Regions from separate parts of the Homo sapiens genome. Here region 2 is linked to region 1. The links come from fine-mapping of genetic effects on gene expression. Tissue or cell type: whole blood. Region 1 holds a variant in brackets; the other region holds the start of a gene. All regions are shown on one strand. Distances are between the middles of the regions.

The links. PIP is the estimated chance that this variant, and not a neighbour inherited with it, causes the effect. A credible set is the group of variants that fine-mapping cannot tell apart.
Region 2: it holds the start of PRDM2, and the variant in region 1 is the best candidate, but not a certain one, in a credible set for the expression of PRDM2 in whole blood (TOPMed, PIP 0.73).

Annotation. Positions count from the first base shown.
Region 1 is chr1:13,759,007-13,763,244 of GRCh38, forward strand. All of the region lies in intron 6 of PRDM2 (PR/SET domain 2), which reads left to right. Among named protein-coding and RNA genes, the nearest start is that of PRDM2, 61 kb to the left of the region's middle. The variant A/C (reference allele first, on the strand shown) is at 1,613.
Region 2 is chr1:13,697,904-13,702,141 of GRCh38, forward strand. PRDM2 (PR/SET domain 2) reads left to right here and starts at 2,285. Exons shown (of 10, transcript NM_001393986.1): 1 at 2,285-2,397. RefSeq lists a silencer at 2,038-2,807.

The sequences.
Region 1 (4,238 bases):
TATGTTCTTGTTAGTTTAATCAGTGTCTGAATGATGAAAAACTAATTTCACTCTTAGTGAATTAGCTGTCTGTTACCAGTTATGGAGAGTAGCAAAGGATTGGCCGGTTAAAAAGAAAACTAATTCAGCATTGCTTAGGCTAAAATTCCCCTACCCTTTTTTTTTTTTTTTTTAAATGAAAACTACAGCGATAAACAATCTTTTTTCTTGTATTTATAAACCTACCTCTTGGGGCAGTCTTTTGTAGATTTCCTGAAACACCACATGCCAGAAAAATGAAGGCAAACTGGTTTGTTCACCCATGTTTAGAACCCCAAGACGGAATTATGTGCAATGTTTGAAGTTGCAATGCCGTTTAGAATGGGCAACAATGCAGTTTCTGAGCCTTTTGTTATTCTTTTTACCATTTGGCCTCTCAGGTTCAGTTTTCATTCTGTTGCCAGTTTGAGATGTAGGATATGCCTTTCTGGTTCTGTTGGCTACATTTTTGTCTTTCATGTTTGGGATTATCAGAGCCTGCTTCTCTGGAATAAAGAGATTACTGGCCATAAGCAGAATGTCTAAGGGCCTGTGAGAAATGAGAGTTCCTACTGTCCACCTCTTGTCTTGGTGCTTTTGCCATGACGATGTTAATGTTGGTCATAGCTGGGTCCCAAGTCTTCTAATCTTCTGTAGCAGGTTTACGCTGTGGGCAGCACCATGATGATAATAGTTGTAGTTTTGATCTTTTATATGTGGAACAATCTCCTTGACTGTTTACACACGATGGACTGTAATTTTTGTAGGATTAGCACTAATGTTGAAATTATAATTTCCCTTTGATATCCAAGAAAATAAGGAAAAAGTATCAATAATAATAATAAATATCATATGTTGTCAGTGGTCTCAATCTTGGATTTTTGGACCAGGGGTTTAAGATTCCAAATCTACTTGATTTTAGGAATTTTGTTAATTGCTAAAGGTGTGATCCACAGTGTCCTTCCCTTGTTAGGTGGGTCATGGGCTTGTTTGATAAGATCAAATTTGAGTGGTAAGCTTAATACCTATTTTTAGTTATTATAAATCCAGGAATTCAGGATAGAAGATAATGTAAATTACTGTTTGTATGCCAAGATAAAATTTGGGGTTGTAGTAGAGTGCAGAAAATATTAAATCAAGAAAAAGTGATACTTACTCAATTTCTGTCTGACCCTTTTAAGTTTTAAAGACAGGATCCTATAAATCTCATGGGTGATTGTCAGAAAGTACATGGAATTGGTGAACTTTGTTTTCATAGCAAATGATTCTTGTGCTTCCCCCTACCTTCAGTTTCTATGCTAAGCACATTAAAAAAAAAACCTGCCTAAAAATTTTTTTTAGTGGGTGGGAATATACTGCTTGGGCTTCAGTGTTGCTTTTGCATTAGATGCAGATTGATCAGTACTTTGAAAATGGATAGCTTGTTTAAAATGAGCCTGGAGTGTGCGTGTATGTTGGCTGGAGGGGAGAGGGGGAAAGTTGCTGACCCAGCTATACCTTGAGTGTTAGGAGATGTGCAGCATGCAGAATTTATTGTGATACACCAGAACATAGCTTTGGAATTAAGAGACCAGATTCACATACCAGCTGCACC[A/C]GTTAATTGCATTGTGACTTCGGATGGGTTACTCTCCATGTTTTGGTCCTTAATTTTTCTGTCTATAAAATGGGAATATGAGCTACCTACCCTACAAGGTTGCTGTGAGCATTAAGTGAGAACATTATAGGAACATTCCTGGCACACCAACCTTTGGTTCATCCCATTGTAATGGTGGGCACCAGCAAAATACATTCTGTGGTAACTGCCGTTCTCTGGCCGGTTGGCACACTTCTAAAAAAAAAAAAAAATGAGCAGTTTCACCATCTTGTGTAACAAGTTCTCTTAAAATCCATATATTTTCCTTTTGCATCGTGGAGTGAATTAAGTGGGTTTCAAATTAGTTAAGAGTAAAGGGCCTGTTTGGATCTGCACCTAAATAGCTACATCGTGGCACTAAGGAATTCTTCATGTGCAAGAAACCTGCTTCTCTCTTAAAAGCTGTCTTGTTTCACTGTTAACCAAACGAGGACACCTGTGGTGACATAGGTTGGTGCATTAGGTAACTCTTGGAATTTGATTTGTTCCATTTGCCTGGGCAGAAGCAAACACGTCTCACTGTTTGCTCGTCTTACCTTTATGTGGTCCAAAGCACTCATGACAGTTATAAGAGGATTTTATGTGAATGAATTTTTCTTAACATTTTCTTAGGTATTAAATTATCAGACAGCCCTGAAAGTAATTGTGTGGGAGCAGTTTCAGGGCTGTATATGACAAATTTTTTTTTACAGTCTTTCTGGGTGTGAAATCAGGAAAAAAACAAATGGACGAAAGGACAGTTTTCTTAGAAGGTGCTAATTAATTTGACGATACCAGTTTTCCGGGAAGAAATGTCCCGATGATCTGTGCAGCATCTTGACTGGGCTTTCTGAGGAGTTGGAGTTCTTTTTCAGCAGTCGCACAGGTACATTCCTTCTGTTGATACACAATGCTTGTACAAACTCACAGCTTAACTTTGTAATAACACAGGAGTCCCTGACCCCCAGTGTTGTCTACCAAATGTTGTGTTTACGTCCGTTTGTGACTGGGGAGAAGGGCCTTAGGTGTTACTTGATACTCAGAAGTCTCCTCTCCGAAAGATTAAGAACCACCACAGTGAACCAGTATGTTCAGTTTTCAAACTCAAGCAGAGACAGTTAGGAGCAATAAAATCAGTAGGTTACAGACTTTAAAAATGAAATACACTCACAGCTTACACTGTTAGAGCATTAGTATATACTGATGTGGACATGAGTGAGTGAGTGACAGAATTCTCTCTAACTTCTGTCTTCATTGGACTTGTACATTTTTATAATAATATCTGGGTGGGATCCTGTGAATCAGCGGAGAACAAATGAACAAAACAAATGGATGAATTAGGAATTGTTAGTGGAAGCAGAACGCCATTGTCTTCATATGAAGGAACATATGCCGACAATTTAGATTTGTAGGCGTGCACTTTCTGTAATTTGTTTAGTAGCATCTGTGGATACTCCTTACAATCGATTCCATTTATTGAGTCTGTGCCAGGCACTGTGTGGCATTCGTTTTGTGCATTACCTCATTTACTTCTCTTTGACAACAGTATCCGATCAGTATTACCAGTATATATCAGAGCTGGTTCCCATCTGCCTCGAATGGGATTATTTCTTGTTAATCAAATCATGGCCCAAGGGCTGCGCAGCAGTGTTTCATGCTATTTCACTTTTATGGGTATCTGTTTTTGTGGACCAAACTTACCTTGAGGACCTACTATTGTGAGTGCCACCACCACACTGGGGAAGGGGACAAGAGCCTAGCCCACTGTCTCGCCTCAGTTAGCGTCAGCTCTTTGCAGGGAGCACGAGTAACCTTGGAGACACAGGAACCTGCTGGGAGCAGGTGAAATGAGTGCATAGGTTGAGAGACCCTTTCCACCAGCCATTGGACGCTGGCCTAGGAAGGACTCCTGTTTCAAGCCCTAGTCCTCTGTGAGCCTTCCTCCCAGGCTCAGTTTGTTCCCTGTGGTCATTACTTTACCCCTATATTGGCAAAAAATAGAAAAGCCTCAGCTCAAGGACAATGTGGGATAATCCTTGGAGACCAGCACCAAGGAAGATTGTGTGCTTCTGAAAGGCTCCATTCTCAGTGCCAGAGCCTGTTAGCAAGGCCAGGTCCACAGCGCGCGCTCCTCAGGCTTCCCGGCTTTACCTGGCTCCCTTGGTGGATGGAACTTTACATCCTCCCCTGCGATTATGTGGATGATGTGTCGGTCCGTGAGTGCTCATAGAGGCACAGCTGCAGGCAGGAGGTGGCTGGGGCACAGTTGAGATCCTCCACAGCAGTGGGATCTGTTTGATCAGCAGCAGTGGAGCTGAGTCTGAAAACCTGTGCTGGAATAAAAGTGCCTCATTTCATGGTGGGCCGAGTGATTAGGTAGCTTAGTATCTCTGTAAATGCTCTTGTTTTTATAAACCTCTGCTAAAATGTGGCATATTCAAATGCCGTTGCTTAGTCTTTGCATTTTTAAGAGAAGCAAAATAAAGGCTGAGGTAAAGAATGATGATCACAGCCAACTGCCAAGACATCGACCCTTAGGTTAATACTGGCAGGCATTCAACATGATTGTTTAAATTAGATATTTGATTTAAATAATGATGGGTATAAG
Region 2 (4,238 bases), 61 kb before region 1:
GCAGCCACCAGAAGCTGGAAAAGGGAAGGAGCAATTCTCTGCTAGAGACTCCAGAGGGAGCCCGGCCCTGCTGCCACCTTAATTTTGGCCTAGTGATACTGATTTTGGACTTCTAGCCTCTAGAGTTGTGACAGAATAAACTTCTGTTGTCAGGGTTGGGATAATTTGTTACAGCAGCCACAGGAAACTAATATAGCCAGTCACTTTGGATTAATGAATTAATAACCGGAAAGACAACTACTGGCTACTCTGTTAACCAACCATCTAGTATCCATTCTGGTTCACCGTGCCACTTCTGATTTAACATCCTTTATTTTCCTTTTGCATTCTATTGAATGCCAGGTGGCCCATAGCTTTTCTCTTAAAATGGTGATTTCTATGTCAGTGTTTTGATGGTGGATGGAACAGTGGGGTCTCCCTATTTTCTTCATAGATACCCCAGATAATTTCGATGCATGGATCCAGTTGGAAGGTATTAATCTAGGTAAGGGGTGCAGAAGTCTGATGACTTTGCTCCACAACAGAGAATACTACTTTGATGACAGGCACGTGGTATCTCCCAGATCTAGGGTCTCTTTTCCTTGAATAGCGGAAGAAATAAGCAAACCCTTGAGGTTTGATTTATTTCCTTATTTTCTTAAGCCCTGTCACTTCTCAAGGCCTTAATAAAATTTACTCTAATGAGGTGATCTTCATTTGTTTACTATAACCGACTCGATCATCAGCTATAGCCTCATTCTTTTTTTTTTTTTTTTTTTTGATACTGAGTCTCGCTCTGTCACCCAGGCTGGAGAGCAGTGGGGCATCTTGGCTCACTGCCAGCTCCGCCTCCCGGGTTCACGCCATTCTCCTGCCTCAGCCTCCGGAGTAGCTGGGACTACAGGCGCCCGCCACCACGCCTGGCTAATTTTTTGTATTTTTAGTAGAGACGGGGTTTCACTGTGTTAGCCAGGATGGTCTCGATCTCCTGACCTCGTGATCCACCCGCCTCGGCCTCCCAATGTGCTGGGATTACAGGCTGAGCCACCGCGCCCGGCCTAGCCTCATTCTTTTACAATAAGATAACATGATATATGTTGATACAACACGTTTTCTTTCTTTTTTGAGATGGAGTCTGTCTCTGTCGCCCAGGCTGGCGAGCAGTGGGGCGATCTTGGCTCACTGCAAGCTCCGTCTCCTGGGTTCACGCCATTCTCCTGCCTCAGCCTCCGGAGTAGCTGGGACTACAGGCACCCGCCACGTCGGCCGGCTAAATTTTTGTAGTTTTAGTAGAGACGGGGTTTCACCGTGTTAGCCAGGATGGTCTCGATCTCCTGACCTCGTGATCCACCTGCCTTGGCCTCCCAAAGTGCTGGGATTACAGGCGTGAGCCACTGCGCCCGGCCAACACGTTTTCTTAAGATTAAACCTGTTACATAAATGATCGTTCATAATTTTTGGAAGCACACCTGCCCTTAGTATCCTGTTTTTCCACTGGGTGCTTTCTGCAGATGGCCAACGTAGCCATCACATTCGGATTCTTCCTGACTTCATTCTCAGAGGATTACTTTATCTTGAAGTGCTGAAGGCTCCAGGCACCATCTATAACGACAACTCCCAACTTTCCAGCTCATCTCCAGCCTGTGCTTCTCCCCGACTCAACTCATTTTCAACCACGTGCTAGGCCTCCACCCTTGGATGTCGAAGAGCCATCTCCAGTTCCACCCAGTTCATCTTCATCAGAACATCTATGAGTCGTCGTCTCTGCAGTCCATTTGTTTGCCCGCTTGGGAACAGCAAGCTCCTTAAGGGCAGGACTACTACCGCGCTCTCAGAGGCGCTGCACTGGAACATCGCGGGCACAGGGCAGCGTTGGTCACTGCTCCTGGGTACTAGGGCAGCAAATAAACCCAGCAGCTGCGTCTGTCTGCCTGGAGTTGGATCTTTTTGGTATAGATCCAAACGTAGAAGTATAAGGTCTACGTTTATGTACTTGTCAGATATTTAATGACCTCCAACGATAGACATGCCCCCCCAACACCTCCTTCAGTCTTTTTGATTCTTTGAGAATCTTTGAACCACGCAGGATCCTAGCCCTAGGGTGCGGTCGGACTTGCCGCGACGCCAGCCGCCGGGGTTCCTTCCCGAGGCGCCGCCATGGGATCCGCGGTGACCTACGAGGGGCGGCTGGGTGGTGGCCATTGGGCGACGGCGCAGGGTCAAGGGCCGGGCTCTGGGATCGTGGGGAGACCGGGGGTCCCGGAGCCCCCCAGCCCCGCAGGCCACTGCCTCGCCGCCCGACGTCACTTCCGACTGGAGTCAAGATGGCGGCGGCGCGGCCGCGGGCGCCGGGGCCGGCGAAACAGCGGCGGCGGCGGCGGCCCTCGGTGCTCTGAGGCGCTGGCGCGGCGGGCGCGGGTAAGGAGTGGCGCGGGTGGGCGGCCTCTGGGCTCGCGCCGGGACGCTGGTCCCTCCCCCCGAGGAGCGCGGCGGCGACGGCGGCGGCGACACGCTGGGGACCCGGCGCCGCAGGGATGGCCGGGTCGGCGGACGCGCCCCCTCAGAGGTCCCGGGCGTGCCGGGGGCCCCGGGACGAGGCGCGGGCCTCCGGGTCGGTGGCCCCGCGGGTGGGTGGCGGCGCCGGGCTCCTCCTTGTCGGCCGTGGGGTCCCTGCGGCGAAGTTCGGGATTCGGTTTGTCGCCGTGAAGAGCCGCGCGCCCCGCGGGGGACGCGTGCGGGCTGCAGAGACTGGCCGGGTGCGGGCGGCGGTGGGGCCACCTGGGGCCCCACGTGGGGCCGGGCGCCGTCCCAATTGTCAAGCCGCTGTGCTTTTCTCTTTTGTGTTCCCACTGAGTGTGTCTTGCACATTTGCACTCCAAATTTGTTTTGTGTCTTGCGTCTTTGTGTTTCCCAAATAGTTTTTGTGTGGTTTTAACCTGGAGATTGTCTCCCTCAATGTTCCCATAGACCCACGGGTGTATGTGTGTGTGTGCGCACGCGCGCGTGTGTGTGTGTTACAGACGTGCAACTCTGTTACTAATTTTGCTAATAAAGCTATCAATGAACCTCTTTTGATGGTGGTAAGTGAGACATGAAGTAAACCTAACAGGTCAGTGTCATTCCCCAAACCTTCGTGGTTCTTTCGATCCACGCGTGAGCCACCGACCCTCCGGGCTTGTAGCTTTGTGTCGGGCTGTGAGCTGCGGCAAAGACCCCATAGTTAACCGGGAAGTCCTGATTTCCTTAACTACGCAGCTGAAATTTCCCCTAACAGAAATTTCGTGCTGGCCCCTCACTTTTCTTTTAGTGTTGTATTGAGATTTTGGGTGTATTTGAGACGTGGAACGTCTTTTGCTGAATCCCAGTAGGTCCTTAGATCCCTTTAACCAGACACTAGAAGAATCATTTTTACCCCAGAACTCGACTAAAATGTTTAAGTTTTTGTTTACTCCAGGTTTATTAAAAGTGACCGAAACTTTTAACAACAAATGGAACTCTTCAATGATTTCTTTTACAATGGTACACACTTCGCCTCGGTTTGATCAGTTGTGTCCAAGTATTAGAAAAATGTAGGCCTTTTAAAAAAAAACATGATAGGAAATTTACATATATTAAGGAGGAGGAACTGAGACACACTGTCATACGTTCTTTTTTAGTAGGGTTCTGTGTTTTTGAGATGGTCCAAACTGCCCCATCACTCTTGAGGCTTCCGGACTAACACTTATTGGCCAAATTTTTACATGTAGAATCTTAGTTTAGCCTTGAGATGACCTTTAAAGATCATTTTTATTAAACCCCCTCATTTCGAGCTATGGAAACAAATCAAAATTCACAGTGGAACTAAAACTCATTTACATTTTCTGTGATTCCAGGGCTCTTTTTACTCAACACATCTGTTTTGGTTTGATTGAAATAAGTTAATACATTTTAAGTGCTTAGAAAAGTGCCAGAACATGATAATACTGCTCAGTAAATGTTTGCTTTTGTTGATTCTGAAGGTGGTTTCTTTAATTGAAAGGTTGGTATGTTCAGGTTTGTTTTTTCCTTATTTTGTGGACAGGGCCTGAAACAGTACAGTTTAAATCTGTAAGAATGTATTAATTTTGTAAGTACAAAACATAACAAAAGATTCTCACTGTAGAAAATTGGAAAGTAGAGAAAAGCACAAAGAAGAAACAGAAATTGGGCATAACCTTCCCCTCTTCAGATAACCATTGTTAACGTTTGGCAGATCTTCCTGTCTCTCTTGGTGTGGATAT